Linked DNA regions of Homo sapiens: all the other regions are reported to be linked to region 7. Evidence: microRNA targets listed by miRTarBase, many of them from high-throughput screens and not tested one by one. Region 7 holds a microRNA gene; each other region holds the end of a gene's coding sequence.
Evidence for each region. Region 7 holds the annotated microRNA hsa-miR-744-5p (UGCGGGGCUAGGGCUAACAGCA, at 1,636-1,657, shown strand). A microRNA usually pairs through its seed, bases 2 to 8, with sites in the 3' UTR of a target mRNA and lowers its output. Matches are read on the target gene's strand: a 7mer-m8 pairs with bases 2 to 8, a 7mer-A1 pairs with bases 2 to 7 and ends in A, and an 8mer does both.

Region 1: the mRNA of EPN1 is a reported target of hsa-miR-744-5p. The part of its 3' UTR that is shown has no 7-base or 8-base seed match.
Region 2: the mRNA of ATXN2L is a reported target of hsa-miR-744-5p. The part of its 3' UTR that is shown has no 7-base or 8-base seed match.
Region 3: miRTarBase lists ZNF318 as a target of hsa-miR-744-5p. The part of its 3' UTR that is shown has no 7-base or 8-base seed match.
Region 4: miRTarBase lists CDAN1 as a target of hsa-miR-744-5p. The part of its 3' UTR that is shown has no 7-base or 8-base seed match.
Region 5: the mRNA of MRPL46 is a reported target of hsa-miR-744-5p. The part of its 3' UTR that is shown has no 7-base or 8-base seed match.
Region 6: the mRNA of SCAMP2 is a reported target of hsa-miR-744-5p. Seed matches in the 3' UTR shown: 7mer-m8 at 2,640-2,646.

The regions. Positions count from the first base shown.
Region 1 is chr19:55,695,025-55,699,078 of GRCh38, forward strand. It overlaps EPN1 (epsin 1), which reads left to right. Exons shown (of 11, transcript NM_001130072.2): 11 at 124-4,054. The coding sequence ends at 332. Among named protein-coding and RNA genes, the nearest start is that of EPN1, 22 kb to the left of the region's middle.
Region 2 is chr16:28,835,779-28,839,844 of GRCh38, reverse strand. It overlaps ATXN2L (ataxin 2 like), which reads right to left. Exons shown (of 22, transcript NM_007245.4): 22 at 2,613-3,912. The coding sequence ends at 3,580. Among named protein-coding and RNA genes, the nearest start is that of MIR4721, 6.2 kb to the left of the region's middle.
Region 3 is chr6:43,333,406-43,337,471 of GRCh38, reverse strand. It overlaps ZNF318 (zinc finger protein 318), which reads left to right. Exons shown (of 10, transcript NM_014345.3): 10 at 1-1,402. The coding sequence ends at 314. Among named protein-coding and RNA genes, the nearest start is that of CRIP3, 27 kb to the right of the region's middle.
Region 4 is chr15:42,721,248-42,725,313 of GRCh38, forward strand. CDAN1 (codanin 1) reads right to left here. Exons shown (of 28, transcript NM_138477.4): 27 at 3,897-4,004; 28 at 2,297-3,369. The coding sequence ends at 3,244. Among named protein-coding and RNA genes, the nearest start is that of CDAN1, 14 kb to the right of the region's middle.
Region 5 is chr15:88,456,372-88,460,437 of GRCh38, forward strand. It overlaps MRPL46 (mitochondrial ribosomal protein L46), which reads right to left. Exons shown (of 4, transcript NM_022163.4): 4 at 3,107-3,492. The coding sequence ends at 3,242. Among named protein-coding and RNA genes, the nearest start is that of MRPL46, 9.0 kb to the right of the region's middle.
Region 6 is chr15:74,841,509-74,845,574 of GRCh38, forward strand. SCAMP2 (secretory carrier membrane protein 2) reads right to left here. Exons shown (of 9, transcript NM_005697.5): 8 at 3,965-4,066; 9 at 2,222-3,709. The coding sequence ends at 3,575. ULK3 (unc-51 like kinase 3) reads right to left here and starts at 1,648. Exons shown (of 16, transcript NM_001099436.4): 1 at 1,496-1,648; 2 at 772-912; 3 at 567-687; 4 at 1. The coding sequence starts at 1,597. RefSeq lists enhancers at 642-1,167, 1,236-2,147 and a silencer at 1,410-2,129.
Region 7 is chr17:12,080,274-12,084,339 of GRCh38, forward strand. It overlaps MIR744 (microRNA 744), which reads left to right and starts at 1,626; the gene lies at 1,626-1,723. It overlaps MAP2K4 (mitogen-activated protein kinase kinase 4), which reads left to right. Exons shown (of 11, transcript NM_003010.4): 3 at 1,083-1,257.

The DNA of each region.
Region 1 (4,054 bases), not on the chromosome of region 7:
TTCCACCAGAGGAGGTGCCTCACGGGGCAGGGACACTTCGCCCTTTGCCTGCACATGCTGGATGGACACAGGTGGGCTGCGCCACTGACTCCACTCCGTGTCTCTGGTTTACTCTTCCTGCAGGAGGCCCAGCCACTGGCCCTTCCGTCACCAACCCCTTCCAGCCCGCGCCTCCCGCGACGCTCACCCTGAACCAGCTCCGTCTCAGTCCTGTGCCTCCCGTCCCTGGAGCGCCACCCACGTACATCTCTCCCCTTGGCGGGGGCCCTGGCCTGCCCCCCATGATGCCCCCGGGCCCCCCGGCCCCCAACACTAATCCCTTCCTCCTATAATCCAGGGCGGAAGGGGGCCTGGCTCCATCCGGCTGCCCCATTCCGGCTCCCTGGGAGATCAGTGTTGTGAGTGCATGTGAAATGGGGGATCCCCACCCCCAGTGCCCTTCCCCTTCCTGGGGCCCACTCACACTACACCCTCTTCCTTTCCCACCCCACCTCCCCGGAGAGAAACTGGACATGGGGCCTGGGGAGGGGAGCTGGCCAGAGGAGGACCCCTTTCCCGTGGCATTAGAAGGGGGAGGGGTGGCTGGGGCCCCCACCCATTCCCCCTCCCTCCAAACTCCCAACCCCCAGTCAGTGTTTGAGCCTCCTCGTTCCCCTCACGCACCCGCTCACGCACCCTCGGTGAATCCTTGGTGATGATTTTGGCAACTTTGGGAATAAATGGCAATTCCCACGGGCTTGGCACTCCCAGATTCCCATCTGTGATTTCGTGTGTCCCCCAGAGCCCCTTCATCCAGGGACCCAGGGCTCAGGTCACATCTCTTTCTCGGGGGTGGCTGGCAACCAGCCCCTCTGTCTCAGAAGCCCTGATTTCCCTGACCCTCCCAGGTCAAGGGATGGCTGGGTTGAGGGTGGACTGTGCGAGGCCTGGCGGAGCTGTAGCCCACACAGGTCCAGGTGGTCGGGAGGCCACTCATGGCCAGACGCTTCCGGTGCAGGAGGCCTTGCTCTTGTGTTGAGGGGACACCAGGATGAGGTCAGAGAGTGCACTGGGGTTCAGGGAGGAGAAGAATCCTGAGAGATGGCACATGTGCAACACAGGTCACCGTCGCCATCGCCCGGGCCCACCGCAAGCATCACTAATCCATCCCTGCACTCCTGGAAAGCCGGGTCAGCCTCTGCCGGCTGAGCTGAGTGGACCACCAGGCGCCTCCTGGTTGTCCTCTGTGTGCTGTTTTCCTCTGTGTGCTCTTGTCCTGGGCTGGACCACACCTGGTGAGACTATCCGGGAGAATCCTCGGGCCGCCTTGTGAGGGGGGTGTTGCTGTCATCTCCAGGGCTAGGTGACAGCTTGTTGCAGGCCCCACAGCCAGGGCCTCAGGGATGGGGATCTGGCCATGTCTGTTTTAAGCCGAACAGGCTGTTCTTCCATGTGGAGTCTCCCTCCGTGATCCCCTGGGGTCAAGTCCTGACGGCTGGGTTCGCTCCCTCAGTGACTCCGACAGCTCTTGTCTCAGAGGTGCTGGGGTGAAGGCTGTGTGGGGCCAGGCCCCTGGGGTCAGACTTCTTGCCCCTTCTGCCCGGGGGACGCTCTGGGCTCAGGGTGGGGCCAGACAGCTACATCACAGGGACACTTGTTATGGGTCGGGGTCCAGGGAGCACCCAGCCAGTGGAGTGTTGGAGGCCACTGAGAGGGACATGACTGCGGTGTCCGAGCAGCGTCGTGGCCACCCTGTGTGCCCACTCCCTGGTGGACAGACCTACGTCACCTGGGGATTGCAGAGCAAAAGGAGTGCTGTTGGGGTGATGTGAGGTTGGGGTTCTGTTTCTTGCTGTGAATTGGGTCATGACCTGTGTCGGAGCGTTCTCTGGCCTCCACTTGCCCCTGCAGACCAGGGTGTCTGGAGGGTTGTCGGGGGCTTGATGGAGGAATTGCTGACCACACCATGCAGGAAGAGGTGGGTCCCAGGGACACAGGAACTTTGGGGTCAGCCGGTTCCAGATTCAGTTGCAGAGGAGCATCCCCCTTGCTTAGCCAGGGAGGGGAAGCCCTCTTCTCACACCCGGCCTGGGTATGTTGTGGGAGAGTCATTTCCCAGGAGGAAATGGGGACTGTTACCGGGGGAGGGGGTGCTGTCCCCAGGCAGCAGCAAGCGTCCCTTACGCTTGGGCTGTCCGAGACCCTGCTGCTCTAGGCGGTTGTGATGGGGGAGCCCCACAGGGCACAGAGAGCCAGCTGAAGGCGGCAGCTCTGGGTGGGATCACATGGAAAGGGGAGGCGAGCCGAGCCTCCCTCTTGCCAATCTTGGTCTCCCCACAGGGTCATAGCTCCTGGGCCCCTCACTTGTCAGACCCTCCATTCACCAAATTAAGGATAAGTTTCACGATTTCGCACTGCGGAGCCTGCACTCCCTTTCTCTTCAAAAAAGCTGAGGACGAAGATAAAATGATACAGTTGGATTAGTCCAGTGGAGGGGTTAAAGGTGTGAGGCTTTAATTCTCCCCACCATTTCCTCATTTGGCAAAACAGAGAAGACAGGATTGAAAAACAAGACAAAAACCCAGAGGCTTGCACATAAATTTGGGGCTTAACTACAGCATCTTCGGCATCTTCTTTTCCCTACAGTGCGAATTACAAAGTAGCACCACAGATCTCGTGTCTCCTACTTTATTCCTCTTTCTAGAATATTCCAGCCACCAAAGTGCTCAGCAGGAGCTGCTGTGTAGGAGTCCCCCATGAGGCCCAAGCACCTGAGCTTAGTGACATACACGGTTGAACGCTGGGAGAATGCTGGGAGCCTGCTGTTGTCCCCGATTGAGGGCTCCCCCCACTGTGTGTGTATCACTCTTTCTACAGCAGATGTGTCTCTCTCCCCACAGTGGGATGGCGAGCTTGTTAAATGGCCGTGAGGAAGACTTTATTCAGGACCATCGAGACAGGTACAGGTACCATCAGTGGATGGAAAATCACTAAGAGCAAACCTCAGGGGTCCGGGGGTTTTCGGCTAAACCCACCTAGCAGGATTCTTGCTGAAGGCAGGCCAGGGTGATCAGAGGTCACCTGGGGATGGTGGAGGCTGAAGAAGCCTATCAGATGTGAGGGTGGCGGGGGTTGGGGGGGATGGCGGCGGGGTTCATTTGCTGAAAGGATTTTACAAGGGCATGCACGGATGGGCCTAGGAGGAGGTTCAGATCCCTCAGGTTTGGCTAAGCAAGAGTCATGGTGGTGCTCCCGGCTGGCTCTCAGGAGCAGATGTGCTTCTGACCCGACGTCTTCCCCCAGAGAGGGCTGAAGTGGAAAAAACCCCAGAATTTCTCCCTGGGACAGGTGAAGCGATGGGGCGTGGGACATTCCTGGGTCTCGACTCTGTTCAGGGCCTAGGGGTTGGGTGGGGAAGGCACTTGAGGGAACCTTCCTGGAGCCCGTAGGAGCTTCATCCGAGCTCCTGGGTCACCCCGCCCACCAGAGTCCAGGCCCACCAGAGTCCCCTGCCACCTGTGCTCACCCTAGCCTTACCCCTCGCTCTACTCCCGCCCTCGCCCTATCCTCGCTCCTCGCCCTACGCTTGCCCCTCGCTCTGGAGCTGCGATGCCAGCCTCAGGGCTTTCAGTCCTGCCTTGATCTTTTTTTATACTGAAACTCAATTTTACACACACAAACCCACTCCCAGCCAGCCTCTGCCTTTTGCCTTTTCCTCATGTTCTCATTGAATAGGAAGAAATGCCCTTTTTTTTCCCCCCTAGAAGGAGTCTTGCTCTGTTGCCAGGCTGGAGTGCAGTGGCACGATCTCGGCTCACCGCAACCTCCACCTCCCGGGTTCAAGCGATTCTCCTGCCTCAGCCTCTCGAGTAGCTGGGATTACAGGTGCCCACCACCACGCCCAGCTAATTTTTTTTTGTATTTTTAGTACAGACGGGGTTTCACCATGTTAGGATGGTCTCGATCTCCTGACCTCGTGATCCGCCTGCCTCGGCCTCCCAAAGTGCTGGGATTACAGGCGTGAGCCACTGTAGCGGCCCCCACCCCATTTCATTTTTTATTTTTTTATTATACT
Region 2 (4,066 bases), not on the chromosome of region 7:
CTCGGCCCACTGCAACCTCTGCATCCCGGGTTCAAGTGATTCTCCTGCCTCAGCCTTCAAGTAGCTGGGATTACAGGCACCCACCACCACACCTGGCTAACTTGTATTTTTAGTAGAGATGGCATCTCACCATGTTGGCCAACCTGATCTCGAACTCCCGACCTCAAATAATCCACCTTCCTCGGCCTCCCAAAGTATGGGATTACAGGCGTGAACCACCGCACCCAGCTGGAATTTTCTTTTTTTTTTTTTTTTTTTCCTGAGACAGAGTCTCGCTCTGTCGCCAGGCCAGAGTGCAGTGGCACGATCTCTGCTCACTGCAACCTCCACCTCCCGGGCTCAAGCCATTCTCCTGTCTCAGCCTCCCAAGTAGCTGGGCCGACAGGGATGCGCCACTATGCCCAGCTAATTTTTGTATTTTTAGTAGGCAGGGTTTCACCATGTTGGCCAGGATGGTGTCGATCTCTTGACCTCATGATCCACCCACCTCAGCCTCCCAAAGTGCTAGGATTACAGGTGTGAGCCACCGCACCTGGCCTAGAATTTTCTATTTAACAGTTCAGATTTTAAGTTGAGCACCATTCTGAGTAGTATGATGAAATCTTTTGCCATCCTGCTCCATCCATCCTGTCAGGACGTGAACCATCCCTTTGCCTGTTAGTCACTTTAGTAGCCGTGCTGGTTATCAGATTGACCGTTACAGCACTCCAATGATTGTGTTCAAGTAGCCCTGATTTACTCAGTGATGGCCCCGAAGCACAAGAGTATTGTGCCTAATTTAGAAACTAAACCTCATCATAGCTATAGGAAAAAACATAGTATACATAAGGTTTGGTACTATGGGCATCCACTGGGGATCTCAGATCACATCCCCCCCAGATGCGGGCGGACTGCTGTACAATCTGCAGTCCTTCCAGAAAGCATCAAAATGACTACTCAGCTGGGTGTGGTGGCTCACACCTGTAATCCCCAGCACTTTGGGAGGCCAAGGCAGAACTGCTTGAGCCCAGGAGTTCAAGACCAGCCTGGCCAACATAATGGGACTCTGTCTCTTAAAAAAAAAAAAAAAATTGAAAGATTACCCAGTAATACTTGCCATATTTCATAGTAGATACCTGTCTCTCCATCTACACTTCAAATATCCTGAGCCCAGCTGAAGCCTTGCAGCTCCTGCACCACCCCACATCTACCTGCTGAGTGCTCTTGGGACTCCAACCCCGCCCATTTTTAGCATCCAAGTGGCTACCACATAAAGTCCTTTTTTTTTTTTTTTTTTTTAACCTCTTTAATAACCCCTTCTCTCCACCCCACCATGTACACCTATTACCAAGTTCCAAATCTGCATATGCTGGGATTCTTCCCCAATACTGTAGCCTTCACTCTTCCTGTCCTGGTCTCAGCCAGCTTTCTCTGGCTTTGGTGAGAGCTGAAACACCCGTCTACCACTGAGCACCAGCCACTTCCTTAAAATCCTGGAAAGGTGAAATCACCTCCATTTTAGGCAAGGAAACCAAGGTCAAGTCTCCGAGAGAATTCTCAACCTCCTTGAAAAACTACCTCCTCTGGAGCCTGCTGTCATTTCCACATCCCATGCTTCAATCTTCTTGTCCCACCCATAATGCCTAATTTTGCTCTTGCTCCCCAGTAAGCCCAGTTCCCAACCAATCCTCTCCCCTCTTCTCCCACTAACAGCTTCACCTTTACAGCTCTCATCCACAGTCAGCTGCACATCCATCAGGATTTTAATTCCAATGACCATAAACATTCACCCTTCAACATAAAGAGGTGTATGTAATTCATGAGATACTCATATTAGAAATGAAACTTTGAATCACACCTTGAGATGAAGCCAAGTTCAAGATGAGAAAATAGTCACTAGACAGCTGGGTGAGCTATCTATGTAGCAGTTCCAGAGCCAGTCAGGGACAGCATCCTTGGGAACTGTGCCACTGCTGTCCCATCCTGGGAAGCGGACTCCCATCTCACGTGCTTTTAGCCATCCGGTCATCCAGAACCTCAGTCATCAACTACACAACTTCACATGAAGTCTGGAACCCACCTTCAAATGCATGGCACAGGATCCCGATCTGGCTCCCCATCATCCTAGATTTCAAAAACTGGCCACCATTGGTGTGCAATGGAGTGATCTCAGCTCACTGCAACCTCCGCTTCCTGGGTTTAAGTGATTCTCCTGCCTCAGCCTCCCAGGTAGCTGGGATTACAGGCATGTCCCACCACGCCAGGCTAATTTTTGTATTTTTAGTAGAGACAGGGTTTCACCCGAGTTCAAGTGATTCTCCTGCCTCAGCCTCCCAAGTAGCTGGAATTACAGGCATGTCCCACCACATCTGGCTAATTTTTGTATTTTTAGTACAGATGGGGTTTCACCAAGTTGGCCAGGATGGTCTCCATCTCTTGACCTGGTGATCTGCCCACCTCAGCCTCCCAAAGTGCTGGGATTACAGGCGTGAGCCACCATGGCTGGCCACTGGACACGATTTTTACATGGAGGTGAAGGAACAGGTCACAATGCAGCACCTATCAATGCCACAAAAGACTGACAGCTGTCACCCCACTCTAGTCTCCAAGGAGGAAACTCCAGGCAGGTTAAGTTAGTTTAAAATTTTATTTTTTTTATTTATTTTTTAATATTTTTATGTAATAAAAAGTAAAAGTCCTTGTCCAGCCATCCTCGTGGGGCATCTGTCTGTCTCTCACACAGGTCACTCAAGTTAATGGGAAAGAAAGAACAGGGGGCCCAAGTCTGAAGTTATAAATAATAGAAAATAAAAGATCTTCCGTCTCCAGCGGGGGAATAGATGAGAGGATGGGAGGGCAAGACTGGGTGGGGACGGGCAGGGGCAGAGCAGGAACCCCCCACCCCTGCTGGACCCTGGCCCTGCCCTCTGTGAGGCCCCTCCCATTCAAGGTGCTTGGCAGGAATTCCCCAGCTCCCCTGGGGAACGGGGGGATGGGGGGCTGGGAGTGGTCCGAGCTGCTGGGGGAAGAGACATAGATCACTCTTCCCTCCACTCATGGAGGTCTCAGGTCGCGGCCAGGACAATCTTCAGTTCCCCGGGGGGTGGAAGGGGAGCTGCTGGGAGGGATGAGATTGAACTGGTTGGAGGGGAAAGAGAAGAGAGCAGGAGCATTAGAACCCAAGCAGCTGTCCCTTCCTCCAATGCCGTCCAGTGGGGGCGTGGGGGTGTGTCTGGGAAGGAGCGGCCTCCTCAAGGTGTCTCGGGGGCTGTCAGAAGCACAGGTCAATCGCTGTTTCCCAGTAAGCCAGAGCCCTCACTCATGTGCCCAGCTCAGCCCCCCACACCCCAGTCTGGCCCTGTCTGCTGCACTGACCTTACCTCGGCTAAGTCAGGAGACAGTCGGGGTCACTGAGAGCTGGGGAGGCAGTGGGGAGGGGGGCTGCTGGATCACAACTGAGCGAGGACGGAGGGAAGCAAAGGACAGAGCCAGGAGCAAGCCCCTGGCGGCGGCGACTGTGGCTTCTGCCCACCCTACATACTTCACAGACAGGTGCAGGTCGGCGGGCGCCCTGTGGGACAGCCCTGCCTCCAAGACCCCTCACTCCCCACCCAGAACCCGTGCATCCTGCCCCACCTGCAGCCCCTCAGCTCTTCCATGCCAAATTCCCCCAGCTAATGAGAACTCACGAATCCTGTCATCGGCTCCTCCTGGAAATCCAGGCGCCTGGCCAGGCTGCTCACCTTGGGGGTGTCCGATGTAGGGGTAGGGTGAGGGTGTGGAAGCTGAGAGTGCAGGCACCCCACTCTGGGGCACCGCGCCTTGGGGGGGCCCCCCATGACTCTGGGGTGGGTGCAGCAGCATCACCTGGGGCGGGTGGGGAGCCCCAGGGTGAGGGGGCGGGGCTGCTGTGATTCCAGTTTGGACATGGGCCTGTGGAAAACAAAAAAGTAGCCGGGAAGACCACAGAATCCTGAAACAGACTCTGAGAGCCAGAGTTAGGGAGCACTATGGCAAGGGTGGCACCAGGGACTTGGCAATGGGATGGTCCCCATGGCAGACGGGCCCTGGCAAACAGACCCAGAAG
Region 3 (4,066 bases), not on the chromosome of region 7:
TCACACGGACCTCTGGAGTTCAAAAAGATAAACTGTGTTCTCCACTCTCTGAGCCAGGTGACCCTTCTAAATGTAGTTCCCTGGAGTTGGGGCCATTACAGCTAGAAATATCGAATGCATCCACCACAGAGGTGGCAATTCTGCAAGTAGATGATGACAGTGGCGACCCTCTGAATTTGGTTAAAGCTCCAGTGTCAAGGTCCCCTCCAAGGGAGCAGGTAATTGAAGACAATATGGTCCCTCAGGGAATGCCTGAACAGGAAACTACAGTTGGTGCCATCCAGGACCACACAGAATCCAGTGTTCACAACTAAGAATAAATACCTAGAGCTACTTGTGAGTGAATCATTGGCTTCTAGAAATCAGATGCCCAGATGATCCAAGACTAGTTTGTTATCTCATCTGGAACCTACACCAAGAGATGCAGTCAGCATCTTAAAGTAAATGTTCATGGAAGCTAAAAAATTTACCTCCTTTCCTTTTCCCTTTCCCCTTAAAACACCAGACAAATCGATAACAACTTATATATATATATATATATCTGTAAAAATGTATTTTGTTAATTTTTTTGGCCAATTTATTTTCTCCCACTTTGTCATTAAAATCACATGTCTAACTGGCTCACCACATAGTGTGCTTTGATTGTATTTTGGCTTTGACTCTGCCATTTCTGAAATGTGGGGGAGGATGGAGGCAGCTGACCTCTCCAGTTGCTGTGTTGTATTCCTACCCAATTTCCTGGGCAGTTGATGCATCTCTGGGAAAAACACCAGAAAGCTTGCTGAAATGGAAAACTTGGAAGAATTGTTCATCTCTTAGGCTTCCATTTGGATGGGCCTGCCTTAACATTGTTTGAAATGCAGCGTGAGTAGCTCTTTTGTTTACTGTTTACACCCCTTATTGGCATGTCAACTCCTGTACTTCCCTTACTCTGTTGCCTTTCTTGAGATGCATTGTCCTGCTAACCCACAAACCTGTTTGGAAATAAACATGGAAGAATATCTGGCAGGCTTACTTTTAGAAGACGACAAATCGGTAAGGCTTATTCATGGTTCATTGCCAGGAGCAGATATGCTTTTGAGATCACTTTTATTTTTGAAATGGCCTTTGTTCATTGTATTGTGATCCAATAACACTTTGTATTAAATTGTTTAGCAGCCATTTGTGTTGTGAAGGGGTAGAAGATCTCTGAAACTTGTCTTGAGATTGAACTCATTCCCTGTTCCACAAACCCATATGTATCCTTTCCTCTACCTCCTCCTTTCCCAATTAATTTCAACCATAGTACGATGTTTGGGGTTGTATATTTTGTTAAAAAGATTAAAGAATTTATGAGTTGGCTTGGACAAGTTTAACTTTATTTTTAATGTGTTAATTACTTGGAATAAATGCATTAATCTCATGTTTCCTTCTGGATTTTTGTTTTGAAATCACACACATTTGAACTCCAAAGGAAAACTAGAACAGTGAATCCCTGCTGCCCTATTGTCTATCCGCACCCGCAACCATGCTTTCCTCACTTGTCAGAACTACTTCATGCCAGAATGTTAGGATATATAGTCTGCCCCAGCGCAGCCTGGGTGGGTAGTGAGTAGGCAACAGTTGTCTGGTATTGGTATCTTCCTGTTGTGAAGCTTTTTATATACCTTTGTGTTGACTCTCCGTAGGATTTTCTGGGAACTGAGCTCCCCTAGGACAATCAGGTTCTTGCTCTTGGGAATTAGGGAGCTCAGTCCTCAGATTTTCTCTGTCCCAGTTTCCTCTTGTATCCCTGTTGTCAGCAGTTTATAACCTGACTCAACAGGGCCTTCGGAGTCTTATTTACCCACCTGTTCCTCAAAGATAATACAAAATTGCTGATCTGGATTAACCTCCCCGCTCCCCCAATTTTTTTTTTCCTGTTTCCTTATGTACAGAGCTATAAAATCCCTAGGTCAACATTGGGAAGGATTTTTAATTTTTTTGACTAATGTCAATTTAGAAGTCATTCTGGCCTCTCTTATGTTATGGAAAGGACACAGATTTGGGAGAGCTAGATCCTTGACTGTGCCTCAGTCATTTACCTTGCTGTGATTTTAGACAAGTTAGTTTACCTTACTGTGTCACAGAGTTGTTTTGTGTTGTTTCCTTTGAGATAAGAATCGTTATCTTTATCCTAGCACCAATATGTACAGGGTCAGGGTATCCTGCCCATGTCACCTTTCTAGCCCTGGTTTTTAGGACAAAGCCTGAGTTCAATGCAGTTTTCTTGCTTGGAAACCATAGACTAACTCAAAAGGTGCCATTTAGAAGAGTTTAAACCCAAGTAAGCTTCAGAGAGATTTGTTTTCCCAGAGAACTACTCCCTCCCTGTTATAGCAGGTTATCTATAGGAATTCAGGGAACATAATTTTTAATGCCAGTTTGTGCTGATTTTCAGTCCTGTTCACTTAGTTCCACTTCCCTTTAGGGGGAGACTGATGGTTTTAGAGAAAGAGTTGGGAGGAGGTAACCATATCAAGATCCCAATCCTAACCTTACTTCCTCAGAGGGCATTGAAATCTTACCCTGTAGGTTAGGAGGGGGCTACTTGAGTGAGAAGAGAAAAAGAGGCAAAATTTATTGTAGGAAGGGCAGAACTAGTTCAGGTAGCTAGGGCTGGAGTACTTTGAGCCTAAGCTTTGGTAGTAACTCCTCTTGTATTCTCTGGATAACTTCAGGATTTACACCAAAGGCATCTACCAATCCGGCTTTTTCAAAAATAATGCTCACTTAAGAGTTACGGGAGTGACATTCTTTATATCTTCCTTGAACCAGCAGAGGGAGAACTTTGAGGATTCTGTATTCTGGGCAGGAAGTGTTGCTGCCTCCTTCCTTTTGGTTAGTGGGATCTAGCTTTGGAACCTATCCAGAGAAGACAGGTGAAAGGAAGGACAGAATTCTAACCCAGTAGCTGGAGATAGAGCATATTTTTTTGTTGTTCTCTACTATCACAGTACTGAATAAACTTTCAACTTAGGAGACTTAGGCACATGGAAGAAATGGGCCCTGAATTTTAAATGCAGCTTATGGTGTAATATAACTATGTTTTAAATTTTACAAACATCAGGAACAACTTTTATCAGATATCCTCAATTGTGAGAAGCAGATGATCAGCAATTATGTTTAAATTTGGGCAAATACCTAATTTTACCTAAGGTGTATAACCCGCTAAAAATTCCCCCTGGCCTTGCAAATGGGGGGCTTCCTGCTTTACAAGCCATATTATATTCACAGGGCACATAATATTCTGCTAATATTGCTGAATAATATAGTTAAGTATTACTTCGCCCATGACACTTCATCTTTCTAAAAAGTCAGAAAGTTAGTATTTTGGTAGCAGAGCATGCCAGCACATAGTCAATTTATCAGTCTGCCAGATTCCAGGACTGAGGAAGAATGGGGTGGGGAGGTGGACATACAGGACACATGCATCCAATAGGAACATAAAGTGTAATTTTAAAAATTGGAGGAGGGTTCAGAGAGGATGTAGCCTGTAACAGAAATAAGTGAGGTAGTTTCTTTTACATATATATATATGTATATATGTATATAGTTTTATATATACTATATATAGTATAGTTTCTTTTATATATATAATATAGATAATATATATATAAACATATATAGGCAAGCTTTGTTGATATATTAATATATATCCCTAAACCTTGGTTCTCACCTTAACAAAGCTTACATACTAAATCTAGGATAAGAACCTAAACAAAGTCTTCATTTATTAACGATTTATGTGAGAACATGGACAAATAGTTTTGTGAGCACATCTCTTTAGAGTTTAAAATTGCAGTAATTTTTATGTAATTTTTAACTAAGTTGTGTATACAATATTCATCGATAAGCCACGAAGTTGAATTTATAATGAAAATCTTCTACTCTTAAAATCACAACTCTCCTGATTTGCCCTCAACCCATATACACTTCCAGAAGAATACATATAAAACATGTATGTTTATGTTGTAGCATTTAATGTGGTTGTAATTTTACATTTATGTTTCTTTGATTAATATATGCTCCCCTTAAGTACATGATA
Region 4 (4,066 bases), not on the chromosome of region 7:
ACAGTGACCACAGTGCCCTGGGGCTTCTGAGGCAGAGCCACCTATGGGAATCTGAGTCAGGGGATAACCAGGAGGTGACCCTGCCCGCCTTAATAGAGAAGCCAGCCGGGCATGGTGGCTCATGCCTGTCATCCCAGCACGTTGGGAGGCTGAGGCGGGTGGATCACCTGAGGTCAGGAGTTTGAGACCAGCCTGGCCAACATGGTGAAACCTGTCTCTACTAAAAATACAAAAAATTAGCCAGGCGTGGTGGCATGTGCCTGTAATCCCAGCTACTTGGGAGGCTGAGGCACAAGAATTGCTTGAACCTGGGAGGGGGAGGTTTCAGTGAGCCGAGCCGAGATTGTGTCACTGCACTCCAGCCTGGGCAACAGAGTGAGACTCTGTCTCAAAAAAAAAAAAAAAAAAAAGCAACACCAGACCTGACTGAATCAGCAAGCGAAAGATTGAGAGGGATCTTGTAGCAAAAAGCAAAAGTGGAGTCAGATTTTGGATTCATGGCGTGGTTGTCATACTTTCGCATACATCAGAATCACCTGAACGCTTTCTTATGCCCCAGGATGGGCCCTACCCCAAGTTACTGGTTTGGTAGCCCCGGAGAAGGACCAGAGAATTTGTGTTAACAAGAAGTCCCAGGGGACCCTGAAGTTTGCTGGTCTGGGGACCACATTTTATAAACAGCTGGCTTTGACAATTAGAGAGCAGACATACAGAATCTAGTTCACTGACCCACTAGCTGCCTGTCTCCATAATCCTTAGAGTAGCCTTTAAGGCTCACACAGGCCAGCAGGAAGTTTCCTTCATCGGGAACATGTTAAATTTCCATTCAGATTCCCAAGAACTTGTTTTTAACTCAGTGGGCCTTAAGCCAGGCCTGGGTTATGGCCCAGCCCTTCAGTCTCAGCATCCTTAGGGGTTTCAGGTTTTCCTCTCCTGCCCATTCCATGTCACACACCTCAGCTGGGTCCTCTGGAACAAGTCAAGGAGTAGCCACAAGCCTGACGCTGACCCTAAGCTTCCTGGGTGGGGGCGGTGCTATGGTTTAATCACACCCAGTGCTGGTCTCTGGGCATAGAAAGCTTTTTTTTTTTTTTTGAGACAGACAGGGTATCGCTCTGTAGCCCAGGCTGGACTGCAGTGGTGTGATCATGGCTCACTGTAGCCTTGACCTCCTGGGCTCAAGTGATCCTCTGACCTCAGCCTCCCAAGTAGCTATGACCACAGGCATGGACCACCACTCCTCACCAATTTTGTATTTTTTAAAGATGAGGCTTCCCCATGTTGCCCCGGCTGGTTCAAACTCCTGAGCACAAGTGATCCTCCCGCCTTGACCTCCCAAAGTGCTGGGATTACAGGTGTGAGCCACTGTGTCCGGCCGAGAAAGCATTCCTTAAAGCTTTTTTGGTTCCCAGGCATTCAGAACAAATTGGATTTAAAGGATAAAGATAAAGGCCTTTGAAAATGAAGAGATCAGGGGAAAATGGTTCAGATATAGAAACTTGTTAAAGGAGTAGCTGAGCTGAGGAGAAGGGAAAGGCATGGTGTTTGGGAGAAGTATGATCACAAGGTGGTGACTGAGGAAAACTCCCATTTTTTACTTTCTAGGTTGATGGGATTTCCTGGCTCTACCATGGTCACACAAGTGGACCCCTTTAGGTCCTCCTGAGGATTATATTATCAGTCCAACTCCTGGTTATTAATGCACATGATCACAGTAGTGCTTTTTTTTTTTCCCCTCAAAGAGATGGGGGTCTCACTCTTGCTCAGGCTGGAGTGCAGTGGCACAATCATAGTTCACTGTAACCTCTAACTCCTGGACTCAAGTAGTCCTCTCTCTCGGCTTCCCAAAGCACTGGGATTACAGGTGTGAACCTGTCAAAATCAGTGGCTCATTTATAGAGCTTGATACAGCTGTAATCGAGAAGCAATGCTTTTGCTCTGAGAAACTCCAAGCCAAATCAATCAAACAAACACCTTAGCCTTAACAAGCTTAACAAGAACACTGCCCCACCATGTGGTTCAGTAGGGAATATCTTGTGTGTGGAAACTACATTATCCTAACCCTTTCTCCCACAAATAAAGCGAGTTACACAGGAGAAGTCAGTACCACTGGCGATAAATTAAATTAATAGATATTGCCACCAGAGACTAGCCCTCTAGAGTGGAATATACAGGCATTTCTAAGAGCCAAGGTAGCTCACCTTGTAATGCACAGAGCAAAGCCACAATTACAGCGCTCCACCTACAGCCCACCCGAGACTGCAGCCTTCTAAAGGGAGAAGACAGGTGACAATGATTAGACATCAAGCCCTTGTTAAAGAAAACCAGTTTATTCTAAAAAGCTCTAAATGCCCTGTGCTTGGTCCCTGGTCAGGGAGAGGTCTCAAGAGGTTACTACCTGCACAGGGGCTGAAGGTACAGGGGGAAAGTCAGGTTTCAGTTGGTTGAGTCCTACCTTATCTGTTTGTTAGGCTTTTTCTAGAAAGTCTCGCTCTGTTACCCAGACTGGAGTGCAGTGGTGCGACCTCGGCTCACTGCAACCTCCACCTCCAGGTTCAAGCAGGTCTCCTGCCTCATCCTCCTGAGTAGCTGGGATTACAGGCACACACCACCATGCCCAGCTAATAATTTTTTTATTTTTAGTAGAGATGGGGTTTTGCCATGTTGGCCAGGCTGGTCTTGAATTCCTGACCTCAGGCAGTCCGCCGACCTCAGGCCTCTCAAAGTGCTGGGATTACAGGCATGAGCCACCAGACCCGGCCTGTGTTAGGCATTTATAAGGAGATGGCAGTCCAGCTCCTGGTGATAAGAAAATGTAGACTCCCAAGATTCATGTTTTAACTTTCTTCATAAGTTAAGCAGGAGTCATTTGCCTCTGTCATGAATTCCAAGACTACAAAGTTTTAAGAGATGCTGGGATAGCAAATGAGGCTTGAATTCTGTGTTGACAAGCCCACACACCTCATTTCATTTAGTATCCAAGAGATAAACAAACACCACCTCTTCTACTCCAGGACTGGCATCTCTGGACTTTTCTGCCATAATCCCAAATCAGGCCAACTCTCCTTCCTCTAGGATTCGCGTGGTGGGATGCCAGGCAGTGACACCCTTAGAGCAGGAAGTCTGACTGTAGACCCAGCTACACCCCAACCAGTGAGGGTCTGCATTGGGCACTTGGGCCTCCTCGTGAGGCGGGGGTCCAGGGTTCTGGTGCAATGCCCAAGGCAGGGCCACTTCTCAGCCCTAGCTCTGGGCCAGCACAGTGCCCCGGTTTGGCTGCACCAACTCACAGGCTCTTAGCTGGGGTTCTGGCAGGTGGGGCTCGGCTAGAAACAGATTAGACAGTGTTGCTAATTCTTCAGCAAAGTCCTGGAATACATAGAAAGATGAGGGAAAAGGCAGCATGTAATAATTCTCAATGGCTCATCCTTTGTCACTAAAGACCACAACCTGGCTGGCTATATTATTTTTTCTCAACTGCCCTCCACACTGAAATGGACATGAAACCTTGTCTGTTTGTTAGTACTCTGGGAGGCTGAAGTTATGGCAGGGAGCGAACTCTGATGGAGGCACAGGCTTGACCAGTTTTTGAGTACTACTGAGTGCATCTACTTCATCTTGAAATTATTATTCCCGTTAAAATCCAGGTTATTCTAATTTTAAAAACCCATATAATGGGCTGTGCTGCTTTCCAACTAACTGCCTGCCTTTCGTCCGTCTTCCCACTAACACAGTCCCTCATATAATAACTACTCAAATCGGGACAATTTCAGGGTGGCCCTGAAGACTCTTGACAAAAATCCACTTAGTTTGGCCCCATCACTTGCTTCCTTTCAGGACAGATGGGATATGTAACACCTGTTCTCTCTCCACCTAAAAGACAGGAGACTCCTTACCCCTGGCCACTGGGCCTGGTGGAGGCTGCCCAGGCAGGCCTCTATCTCCATCCGTCCCATCAGACCCTTCTCCACCAGCTCCCGTAGCAAGAATAGCAGCAAGTCCCACTGCAAAACACACCGAGGTCAGGGTTGCTAGGAGGACGACAGAGTGACCCTGATGACAGAGA
Region 5 (4,066 bases), not on the chromosome of region 7:
GAAGGAGCAGAATTCAGGAGCCTAAGTATGTTGGAAGGAGGGAAACATTTGCTGAGTGTTTATAACAAGCCACACATGGTGCTAAGTACTCTCGCATAACTTACCACATTACCTGAGAAGAAGTATCATCTTCATTTTATAGATGAGAAAGGTAAAGTTAAGAAAAGTTAAGAACTACCTTTGTATACAGGTCTAGGTTCGAATTCTGGCCCCACTTCTTACTAGGAAGTAACTCTAAGTAAGCTAACTAACTTGAGTTTATTTCTCATGTATAAAATAGGGATAAAGATGCCTGCCCTGCTGGTTTAAATAACAACGTAGCTTGTAAGTAAGGGCACTCACAAGGCTCTTGGCACTCAGGAGTCACTACGCTGTCATCAACAGTAACAGTAACTTAACTGAGGTCATAAAAACTCAAATCCAGGTTTTCTGACCCCAAGTCCAGTGCTCATGGGGAAAGGAGCTAATCTGCACACAGTTTCTGAAGCCCAGTAGGTACGGATGAACATTCCTAACCCCAAAATCCAAAAGGCTCCAAACTCCAAAACTTTTTGAGGGCCTCAATGACACCACAGGTGGAAAACTCCACACATCAAGTACTTAACACAAATTTTGTTTCATGCACAAAATTATTTAAAATATTGTATAAAATTACCTTCGGGTAATCTGTGTATAAGATGTATATAAAACATAAATGAATTTCATGTTTAGATTTGGGTCCCATTCCCAAGATATCTCATTATGTATAATGCAAATATCCCAAAATCCAAAAAAACCTGAAATCTGAAAACACTTCTGCTCCCAAGCATTTCAGATAAGGGATATTTGACCTGTATAGGAGCCAGATTAACAACTAATTATCCTATAAAGTGTTAAGTGTAGAAGCACATACAAGGCATAGAAATGGCCCAGCAGGAAGTAACCCTTGAAAATAAGTTACCAGGAAAACAAGTTTGTAAGCAGGGCAGTATTTTCTCTGTAGAACCAGCAAAGGTGAAAACAAGGAGACCAGAAATCATTTGGGAAAACAATGACCAAGAGGCGAAGGCTAAACCTTAACAACTGAAGGATCCTTTCAGTGAACTGGGTGGTCTGTTGTACATGTTACACACACACACACACACACACACACACACACACACACAGAGGCATTTCTCTTCTTAGGTTGTACAAACACACTTCAAACTGGAACTCCTAATCCCCACAGCACCACACACATTACGCTGTCCTCCCACACTGAGAACATAGCATCTTATTTTGTTCCCTGGCAATCTTCCCCCAAAGGATACACTAGAAACAATTTTTTGGTCATGTTTGCCAGCCGGTAGAAGATTCAAGCTGGCACTCAGCAAATATAGTTATTTATACTATAATGCTAAAAATCTTGCATTCTGCAATATCACACTCCAAAAATAACAGAAAAGGGGGTTGGGGCAGACCACTCAAAACCTATGGAATTCTGTAACCAGAGCAATAACAAAAGAGAATGAAGCCTAATGATGATGCTAATGCAGTACCCCCACCACCTGTACACCAGTCCCCAGCAGCCTTAAATCCTGGGGCTTATACTGCTTCCTGAGATGTAGGTTCTTTGATATGTAATCTTAGCAGAGATGCATTCCATCAAAATTAAAACTGTGATCCAGGACAGGGCCTTCTTCATCAATTTTTTAAAACAAGGTGGGTGAGGTGTCTTCACAGCTTCTTCCATTCCACTCACAGTTTCCCCTGAGAGCTGAACATCATGGAAAGGCTAGCAGTGCTTCTAGAAGTTACTAAACCAGCCCCTACTTGCAATAAAGGAAGGTGCTTCTAGAAAATTTTCAGCTTTTTTCTTAAGCTATTCAATCTTGTCCCTGATCATTTAAAAACATTAATGTTCTGCAGAAAAATCTAACTTAACTTTGGGTCATTCTGACACCATTTCTCTATTTCCCAATTGCACATATGCTATTTCTCACCAAAAAAACAATGTTGTTACAGACATGCACGGTCACGAAAATAGTCACTTCACTCTGGTGATTCCTTCCCTTCTAGGTCAGAGGTGCCCGTGGCCCTAAGAATATGCAATACAGTTCACACACAAGTCACTCCAAAACCCAGAAAGTGCATCCTGGCCCTGTGGCTGTGCCCAGGCTTCACTACAAAGGCGCCACTACAGCTCACCATCAGCAAGCCTATGCCAGGAGACATCTCCCCTCAGTCATGCAGGGGAGAGCACACATGCAGGAGGAAAAAGGTTAGCAGAGGAGTATCAGGCCTAGGCCCCTCAATTTTGATTAAGAAAGCAATTTCCCTGACCCTGGGCAAGAACACAAGGCTGCAGCTGATGCAGAAACAGAAATCCCATCTCATGTGCTCACAGCCTGTTTAACCCAGGCCGTCTGAGACGAAACCAGGAAGCATCTGATGGGAATCCAGGACTGCAGACTAAAACCACTATTCTGGGCAGACAAAGGTATGCCTGAGTTCCCCATGCTCTGCCACTCACTTAACAAATGTTTACTGAGTGCCTCGTATGTGCCAGGCACTGGGGACCAGTGAGGACCCAAACAACACACTGAAGAGCCAAGAGCCCCAGAGGTGAGGGGCATTGGGGTCAGCATTCTCCTCTAGCACCAACAGGCACATGCAGTATGACTCTGGGCTAAGTCACAACCTGGCCGTGATTCCTCCATCTGTAGAATGGAGATAAACTAACTGCACATTTCACATGACTGTTTCAAAAAAGGTTAAGACATAACTCAATTCTTTTTAAAATAAAATGCTTTTAGGAAGGGGGGGAAAGAAGGAAGGATTATTTCCCAGGCTAGATTAAAACACCTTCATATCAAGTGCAGAGGGAAGGAAAAACAAACTGGAAATGGCTAAGAAACTATATAGAACTAGTTTTTTCCCAAGGGCCTAGAGAAGCTTTCACAGAATTCAAGGCTTTCGGGAAGTCAATTCATTTCCTTCTGTCCTTTCTTCCTGGGCCCAGTAACTCAGTGACGCACTGTAATATAATCCAGTACTCAGTGATCACCTTGGGAAAAAAATGGAAAGACACCCTAAGAGATGGCTCTCTTCACTGGGCCATCAAAGGGCAAATCAGCTGAGACCAACACAGTAATAGACTCGTTTATTTCTCAGAATTTAGTTTGCTGCTTGATATTACCTGCAAATGTGAGGCAATCACACAATGTCCTTGAGGCTCTAATCCCAGACTTGTCTGAGCACCGTCCACAGGCAGCTCGGCCCATCAGAGGTCTGAAACAAACCTCCTAACTTGGGCCAGGTATTTTGGTTTCAAATAGTCACCCAGCTCATCCTTAGTGACCCACACATGATGGCCCTTATTCCCAGCCTGGGAAAAGTCTCCAGTTAATAGCAGTGCTTTGAAGAAGAACACCTTGGCTCCGAGGTTACTCTCTGTCCGCATTGCCTGGGGGAACTTGAATGTGTAGTGCCCACAGGGTGCATTTCCTAGGAACTTGGCTTCCATGTTGTTTTCTGAAGAGGGAGGAAAGAAAAATCACAATTGGAAGGTAAGGATACAGCCATCTGTTTACTCTGGCTCCCAAAATTATAGGGGGTCCCTGCAAGATCTGGCCCTGAGGTAAAATCAATCCCTAGGAATAGGACTAGAGCCATTCCTGAAAAGAGGCTCCTCCCCTCTCAATCCAAATGCCTCCTGGCCCATGGAGTCCAGATTCACCAGGCTCACTCCCATGTGCCAAGCTACTGTTTTTAGACTGAAAGTCAGCAACACAGTTACAATCACACCTGGGAGTCAGAGCACCTAGTTCCTACATTCAGCCCAGTCGCTATCTGCTGGCGAATCAGCCCAGTCGCTATGCTGGCGAATCAGCCCAGTCGCTATCTGCTGGCGAATCAGCCCAGTCGCTATCTGTTGGCGAATCAGCCCAGTCGCTAACTGTTGGTGAATCAGCCCAGTCGCTATCTGCTGGTGAAGGACGAGGACATTTGGTCTGTAAAACAAAGTTCATCCACCTTTAAAATGGGTGTCACCTGGAAAGCATTAAAAAGGACCCCAGTTTTAACTCCTACCTAGTGAAAAAAGGCA
Region 6 (4,066 bases), not on the chromosome of region 7:
GCTGAGGAGCAGGACCCACGAAGAGAGACAGTTCAGAGCCCATTCCCGCCTGCCTCTCGCCTCCCCGGCTCACATCTGCCTCCTCAAGCCTGCACAACCCCAGTTCCTGCCTGGCTGGTCTAATGTTTTCCATATAAGCACCAAGATCACACCACTTCTAGGAGTTTGCCACCCCACCCGAGTGCCCACCCTCCTTCCCTCTGCCCCTTCACAAGTCTCCCCACCTCTCAGAAGCTTCTCTGGATGCCCCAGCCCTTGAGATCCTGCTCTTTTCCTTGGCACAGCACTTGAGTCCTACCTACAGGACTCTGGAATGTTCTACAAGGTCCTTATATTATGTTCTATGTATGGAAGCCTGAACACCCCACAGAGGGGTTACCCCCTCATCTCTCCCACAGCGTCCTTGAGCAAGGGTTGAGTGTATGAGATAAACAGGACCATAAAATTTCAGGCTGTGCAGGAGGCAGCTGCAATGCGTGCCAAGGCTCTAAGCCTGGGGGAGGGGTGGGATGGTGGGGGGCAGAGAACAAGGGACAGAGTGTCAGGCTGGTGTCACAGGCCTTTACCTAATTGCTGCATGAAGACACGCGCCACCTTCTCAGGCAGAATCCTGCGGGTATGGATGAAGCGAGACAGGTCGCCCCCTGCGCAAAACTCCATGATGAGGTAGATATTGTCACTGTCCCACTGTGTTTAGAGGCAGAGAGGCGGCCTGAAGAGAGTGTCCCTTCTCCAGCTCCCTTTGGCAGCGGCCCCGCCCCAGGCTCACACCTGAAAGTCTTTCAGCTGCACAATGTGGGGATGTCGAATGCCCTTGAGGATCTCAATCTCCGTGAGGAGGTTCTCCACCGATGCCTTGTTCAGACTTTTCTTGGCTACACACTTTATGGCTACCACTTCACGAGTGTCCTTCTGCGAGACAGGAGATTTGGGGACTCTGCCTTGAGGGGGCCAGGACCCTTGTCTGACTGGAAAGGCTCTATCTGGTTCCCTCTGTTCCCCCACCCCGCCCCTCCCCGGGTCTACCTACTGCACACCAGCACCGGGCTTCCCAGCTTTCCCTTGTGAGGCCAGTGAGGAATGCTGATTCTGGAATCCTGGCTTCCCGACACAGCCTCAGCCTGGTCTTCTCCAACCCTCGGCTAGCTGATCCATTTCTTTGCATTCTGGAGTGCTCCCGGCAGAGGCATGTCACTCAGGGTTCTAGAACCGCCCACTCTGCCTCCCAACTGGCTCCAGTCCCAGACTCCTCCCAGCCCACCAGGTAACCTGTTTTGAGCCTGTTCTTCAGCCACTGACCCTGCAGGTGGGTGCAGGTGCGCTCTTTAAGACCTAAGCGTGGCAGTCGGCTCCAACCTCCGCCGAGGGTCAGCTGGGGCGAGGCCGGCCTCCCGCCCCTAACTATTCCCACACTGTCGCTAACCTCTCAGAGTCTCCCCGGCCGGCACCAGCCGAGCTAGCTCGGGCGGGCACGGGGCCATCGGCCGGCACCCACCTTGGCGTAGGCCTTGTACACCGTGGCGTACGTGCCGCTGCCCAGGCGCTCGGTGAGGATGAAGCCGTCCAGGCGCGGGGGACCCCAGCCGGGCCCCGCCATTCCGGCCGCCTGCGCCCGCGCGGGCGCTTCCTCGCTGCGGGCGGCGGTTCCGGCGGGTTGCGGGGCGGGCCGAGCACTGGGTGGCTCCACGCTGCCCCCAGCGCCGCCCGCCGGAAATGCAGCGCGCATCGGGGACGCGGATCCGCCCGGCTCCCGGCGCCCCTCCCCTGTCTCTGGGCCTCGCCGGGTCACGCGCCCCGCCAGTTCCTGCAGGGCCCACGTGGGGATACGGAGGCCCCGCGAGCCTAGAAGTTAACAACGGAGGACGGCCGGCGTGGTCTCCGGGGACTCCTAGCGGGCGCAGAGGCGTCTAGAGATCGCCCACGTGAGGGCGCGGGCGGCGGAGCGGGCGTGTGTGGGGGCGACGGCGTCCGGGAGGCTCCCAGGGCCCCTCCCCAGGACCCGCAGCTCTGAAAGGAGAGCTACTGGCACGAGAAGGCGCCTTTGGAAGAGGCCGCGTTGGCTTCCCAGGCCTCCCAGCTGCTTTTCACTTTTCTGAGGAAGGGCCTTGACCTATTTATTGCATCTTAACTGTCCCCGCTCTCCAATCTTAGCAGCGGCGCCCAGCCCCTAATCCTGTGGGCTGCCCCGTCCTCCCAAGTCCACCAGACATGTGGACCCGTGTTGTCTGAAAATGTTTTTATTTTTACTTAAGCACAAAAATTGAGACGTAACATATACATTTGTACATAGAGGGGAAAAAATACCAGAAAGGAGTTCATAAAACCCCAGCCGCTGCCAGTATCATTCAGTGGCTGGGGCCTGCGGCTGTCTCGGGCCCAGAGCCGGAGGCTAGTTTTGTGGGAAGGCACCCCAGTCCACACACCCACTCGGCAGCCTCGAGGGACAGGGTGCTGGTTTTAAGGGTGGACTCCTACGTGTCCCATCACAGTGACACACCCCCCAGGGTGTGAACCAGACTCCACTGGGTATTAGGGGGCCCTCCGAGAGATGGCTTATCAGTCCCTGCTGAGGGATGCGGTTCTGGACTGGCTGGCCCTGCCCTTCCTGAAAGTCTGGATGCTGCTGATGGGGAGCATGGGCGGGGCAGGTGGCATCTGAGGCAGAGACAAAGGCAGCCGTCCCTCGGTTCGGGGAGGGGGGGGGGTAGTCACAGCAAACAGGGCCAAACCAACCACACCAGGACAGGCAGACCCCACCCTCCTAGAAGACGCTGGACGCTAGGCAGGACAGCTTGGGGTCAGTGTCCTTGGTCCCTTCCAGTCCCCAAATCCCAACCAACGGCATTGTACATTCAGAAAGTCTGAAGAGAGTAAGGCTCAGCAAGGGGAGGGCTCCAGAGGGCTCAAAGTGCCATCCCCTGCAGGAGGGTGCAGGGGGATAAAGGGCTATTAATCCGTTTCTCAGGAACACGAGGCAGGGAAGAGCTTAAGGCAACCAGCCTTCTCTGGATCCGTTTATGAGGCAGAGAAGAGCTTGAGGCAACCAGCCTTCTCTGGAAGCCTGGAGACCACTGGAGTGACCTGGGGAACAGATCTGTCCACCAGAACCTGTGAGAGGCTTATTCCCAGCCCAGGCAGGAAGGACTGGGCTGTGTCTAAGAAGCCAGATTCAGGCCAGGCCTGCAGGGTGGGGGAGTCAAGGCCCAGGACCCTGGCAGAAAGCTCCAGCTGGGATGGGCCCAGGTCAGCCTGTGATCCCAACTGTGTGGGGGTGTCTGTGTGTGCACAGGACGAAGAGAACTTCAGTCCCACTGCTTCCAGAGACAAAAGAATCCTACCAAACCATCACCAGAGAAGGAAAGAGAGCTTTGTTTTTTTTTGTACATAGAGGGGGAAAAAATTCCCTGTCCCTCCCGTTCCAGGGAGAGCTGGTCGCTGAGGGAGGAGGAAGAGCCACGGCAAGAACCCTGCCAGGTCTGTGCTGGGCACAACCACCACCACATAAGGCACCCACGGAAAGTGCAGCTCAGAAGGCAGGCGAGAGAAAGGCTGAGGGGGAGAGAAGAGAGGAGGACTAATTCCCCTGGAAGGCTCCTTGGGCAGCAGATGAAGCAGCTCTGTGGAAGGTTCTGCTGCTGAAGATGCCCTGGGAAAACTCCTCCTGGGCCTGCTGGAAGCTGGCCCCTGTCCGTCGGTAGAGGGAGTGCACCTGGCGAAGAGGGGTGGGGTGAGAGAAGCCTGTCCTTTGGGCCCACCAGGAAGCCAGCCATCCAGGTTATACTCCCAAAGGGGTCACCAGAAGCCTGGCACTGCCTGACCCCCCACCCAGATCCCTGGAGAAAGGTACTGGACCTTTGGGGGCCTAGGATGCCCAACTGCAGTGGTGAAAAACATCTCGTGGCAAGGGCAGGAAACGGTTGCCTGCCTCCTCCCATTTGCTGTCAGCCCTGCCCACACCACTCACCCGCTGCAGGAGGAAGACTGAGAGCACGGCACAGAGGGTGAAGAAGCCAGCCACCACCATCATGATGACTGATATGGCCAGGGAATGATTATCCAGTGTAGA
Region 7 (4,066 bases):
ATAGGATCAGAGTTTAAAAGAGATCCTGATCATTTAGTATGAAACTGAAAAATGTAGTTGATATTTAATGAATTCTTTCATTGTGTGTATGGTTGATAGTTTGTTCCTACACATTGGGGTTTGGTGTGTGTGTGAGAGAGAGCAAGAGAGAGAAACAGATTGATTTTACATTTTTCATTGGATTTACTTTTTTACAAAGCATGGTTAGAAGTTATTAATACTTTGATCTCCAGGTTGAGATTTTGGAGATGATTTTTTATTTAATGGAAATATGTAATGAGTGAGCTCTTTTGTCTACGAGCCACTCATTTTTTATCCCATTGCTTTATCGAACGAGGGCTGAAAATTTCAATTTTGAATAGCACATGGCAATTTTCCTCTTAGAGCCAGCTAGCTATTCAGTTAACTGTTCTCCCACCTCAGGATGGTATTAACAAGAACAGGACAGTATACTAAGGCACTAGTTCCCAAACATTACTGGAATCATCTGGGGGTCTTTAAAAATACTGTTTTCTGACTCCTGTCCCTGGATAATTCAGATGTAATTGCTATGGGACGATACCTGGGCATTGAGATTTTTAAAATCTCCCCCAGGTGATTGTAAGGTACAGCAAACCTTGGGAATAGTTGTACTAACTGAAGATTGAGGCACTGGAATAACTAATGTTGGGTAAGATAGGGTAAGAACTTTTTCGCAATAAGGTTTGCAGCTCTTGGGATTCTCACTTGATAATGCTGTTTGGATAAACCATCATCCAAGTTTGAATAAGATCTTATATTTAGAAATGAAAACTGATCTGCAGAATTAGTTTAATCAATAAATGGGAATTTTTAAAAATCTTCTTGGCAATTTGTTTTTATGAATCCCGTTGAAGCTGTGTCTATTGACTACCTAAATCTAGATCATTCTTAATCCAGTGTGTAAAAAACCAGGATGACACAAATGAAAAACTTCAAAAACCTGGAGGTCAGACTATTTTAGTAATTTAGAAAACATTTTTCCCACACATTAATCAGTACTAAAAGAAAAAAGTTAAAACCTATTTAAAATGTGGAAAAATTGCTTCCCAATATTTTAACAGAGAGAGACTGAGAACACACAGCATTGAGTCATCAGGAAAACTGAAGATCTCCCCTGAACAACACTGGGATTTCACTGCAGAGGACTTGAAAGACCTTGGAGAAATTGGACGAGGAGCTTATGGTTCTGTCAACAAAATGGTCCACAAACCAAGTGGGCAAATAATGGCAGTTAAAGTAGGTGATGCCATGATTATTTTTGGTACTTTAATCCATTAGGTGAAATTTCATGGTGCAGTAATACCACTGTTGTTGTGTTCCTACTTTTGTGGTAAATGTGGGTGTTTAAAAAATTGTTTCTCCAACTCCTTTGAGGGTGTTCTGTGTAGAGGTTTCTTATTGGTGGCACATTTTCTATCTCTTTGGAAACATGAGTGTATGAAGTGTGCATGTTGATTGCATTTTTGGCATGATGCATTAACATGTTTTAAACTTCAGGCCCTTCTACTGCCAAGGTGAGTTCAGGCTGGGCGGCTGCACCCCTGGGAGCAGGGCAGTGCTGCACTGAGCCAGGCGGGAGCTGGAAGAAGACGCAGCACACTGGGTTGGGCAAGGTGCGGGGCTAGGGCTAACAGCAGTCTTACTGAAGGTTTCCTGGAAACCACGCACATGCTGTTGCCACTAACCTCAACCTTACTCGGTCCTGACCGGCTCGGCTTCTGTTTGTTTATTTCATCTCTACTCAGTACTGCCCTGTTCCCTGGTTTTAAAGTTGTACTGAAATGCATACCTTGTGATAATGTTGTCACATTTTGTCCTTATTGTGTCGTGCCACTTAATATGTTCATTAAAAAAAAAAAATGGCCAGAAACAGAGATTTGATCCATAGACAATACCTGGCAAGCTTATGCTGGTACCTGTAAAGAACTGGTGGTTTCCATCTGACTCCTAGTTTCATGTAATTGTAATTTATTCATTTGTTTGTTTAGATGTTTAACAAATCTTTGCTGTATGTAAGATATTTCAGGAAAATCAGCAACAGGGGGAACAACTTGCAAAAACAAAGGAAAAAAAGCTAGCTGTGGCCATACCCTCTCTGAGCTTAAAATTCCTATGGGAACAAAAATGTTTCAGTTTACAAGAATTCAGAATGGATTTGCATATAGTCCAAGCTAATCATCTTCCTATTAGTGTCCTATTTTGAGAGTTTGTCAGAGTGGTTGATAAGAGTCCTTAGTTTTTTCTTGACATTTGAGAATGAATTTAAATTAAAATAAAATGCTTTCTGTGTAGAAGTCTGTTGTGAGCCAAACCTTACTGTAACTATTTTAGTATCCTTCACTGTTGAGCATTTCTTTTTGCTGGGTCATATGAAAGTAATGTTAAATTAGTGGTAGGGAAAATTTTTATGATTCTCTCTATGGGTTCCTAACATTGTTTTTGGCTGTATTTTTAAAATGTGGTGAGAACTATAGACTTTTCATAGGCAGGTGTATATACACAACATTTTGTATACAAACCGTAGACCTCTAAAGATGCACAGGTGAAGAACTCTGCATTATGTGTTAAAATAAAATGTTTTATTGGAATGTGAAATGATTTCTGTATTCCTATTTTGTGCCACTGCAGTGTAAGTGGAAAGAGTCATTTTATTTAGACTCCTGGATGAATGTTGTGTTGTCCCTTTGTGCTACCTGTGTGTGACATCCAGTTTTAGTTGGCTGGATCTTAAGGGAAAGGTTTCCTATATAGTTAAAGTTGTAAACTTTTCTTTCAGGTACTAGGGAAAGTAATTTTAAAAAATTATTTCCTGCTTTTTACAGTTTGTGTTATGTGTGCTTCAACTTTGTTGATGAACATTATTAAACATTTTAGTAATATGGATTGATTTTAGCCATTGTTAAAAAGGTCATAAAGGTAAAGAGGGTACTTCCTTTTGACACTTAAAAGTTTTTCTCACTGATTAATTTGATAATATTTTGGGTTGTATAATGCTTACTCAAGTTTTGTAGGAATTCAAGAATGAAAATAGGAAATTGTTGTCCATCATTTGTAATGTTACATTATCAGTGGCTACTGGCTACTGTGACAGTTCCAGTTGGGATGCTATTAAAAATCCCAGCTGTACTTGAAGAACTTTCAAGGCAGTCATGAGACCTACAAACTGGTTGCTGTCACATGTATACCCACCACATGGTACTACCTAGCTTCGTTTACCATCTCGAATTCTTGAACAAGCATAGCAGTTGGGGATGGGAGAGGATGGCAGTACAACACATCAATTAACATATAGTTGAGGAGTACCTTTGGATTCCATGACTTCATTAATACTGGAAGAATAAGTGTTTTTGCATTAATATGCATTAAAATTTGATACCAATTGATGACAGATGTATGCCATCTCTGAATTAAAGAATGCATTTATTATTGGTTTCTTCAAAGAAGAATAGTCTTTCATCACACTTGAGAGAGTTCATTCATTCCTCATTTAGGTACATTGACTGGATTGACAGGCACAAATATACAGAATCAATGTATGATTAAGGAGGTGTTTGATTTGAGACTTTACGGTTTTAAAGGAACCATGAGACGGTGGTTCACACAGCTGAGAGCTTTCCATTGCTGTTGGTGAAATGAGAAACACGCTTGAAGTAACTCTGTGCTAACATCTTAATACACACTTTGAGAATAAAGAAGGATTGCATTATTAGATGTTAAGCTGGAAATGATCCTTAAGATTTACTTGCAATATCTGTAGAAAAGTGAACTGTGATATTAGCTTGATTTTTTTCTTTGTATTATTCCTCATTTTTAGTTCTGAGGAATTCCTTCCCCAAATTTATTTTGCCATATATAAGAAATATTTGAAAAAGGTGACTTCTTAGTAACCAGAGTTAATTACCCCAAAGACTTAATCTAAAAATCAGTTTTGATATAATCAGATTTAGTGAGGTAACATTGTAAGAGTTATACTTAAAACAATTTTTTGATGTTTGGTTTGAGGACAGTCTCCCAAGCTATCGGTGAGTTTCTGCATTAGGACCTA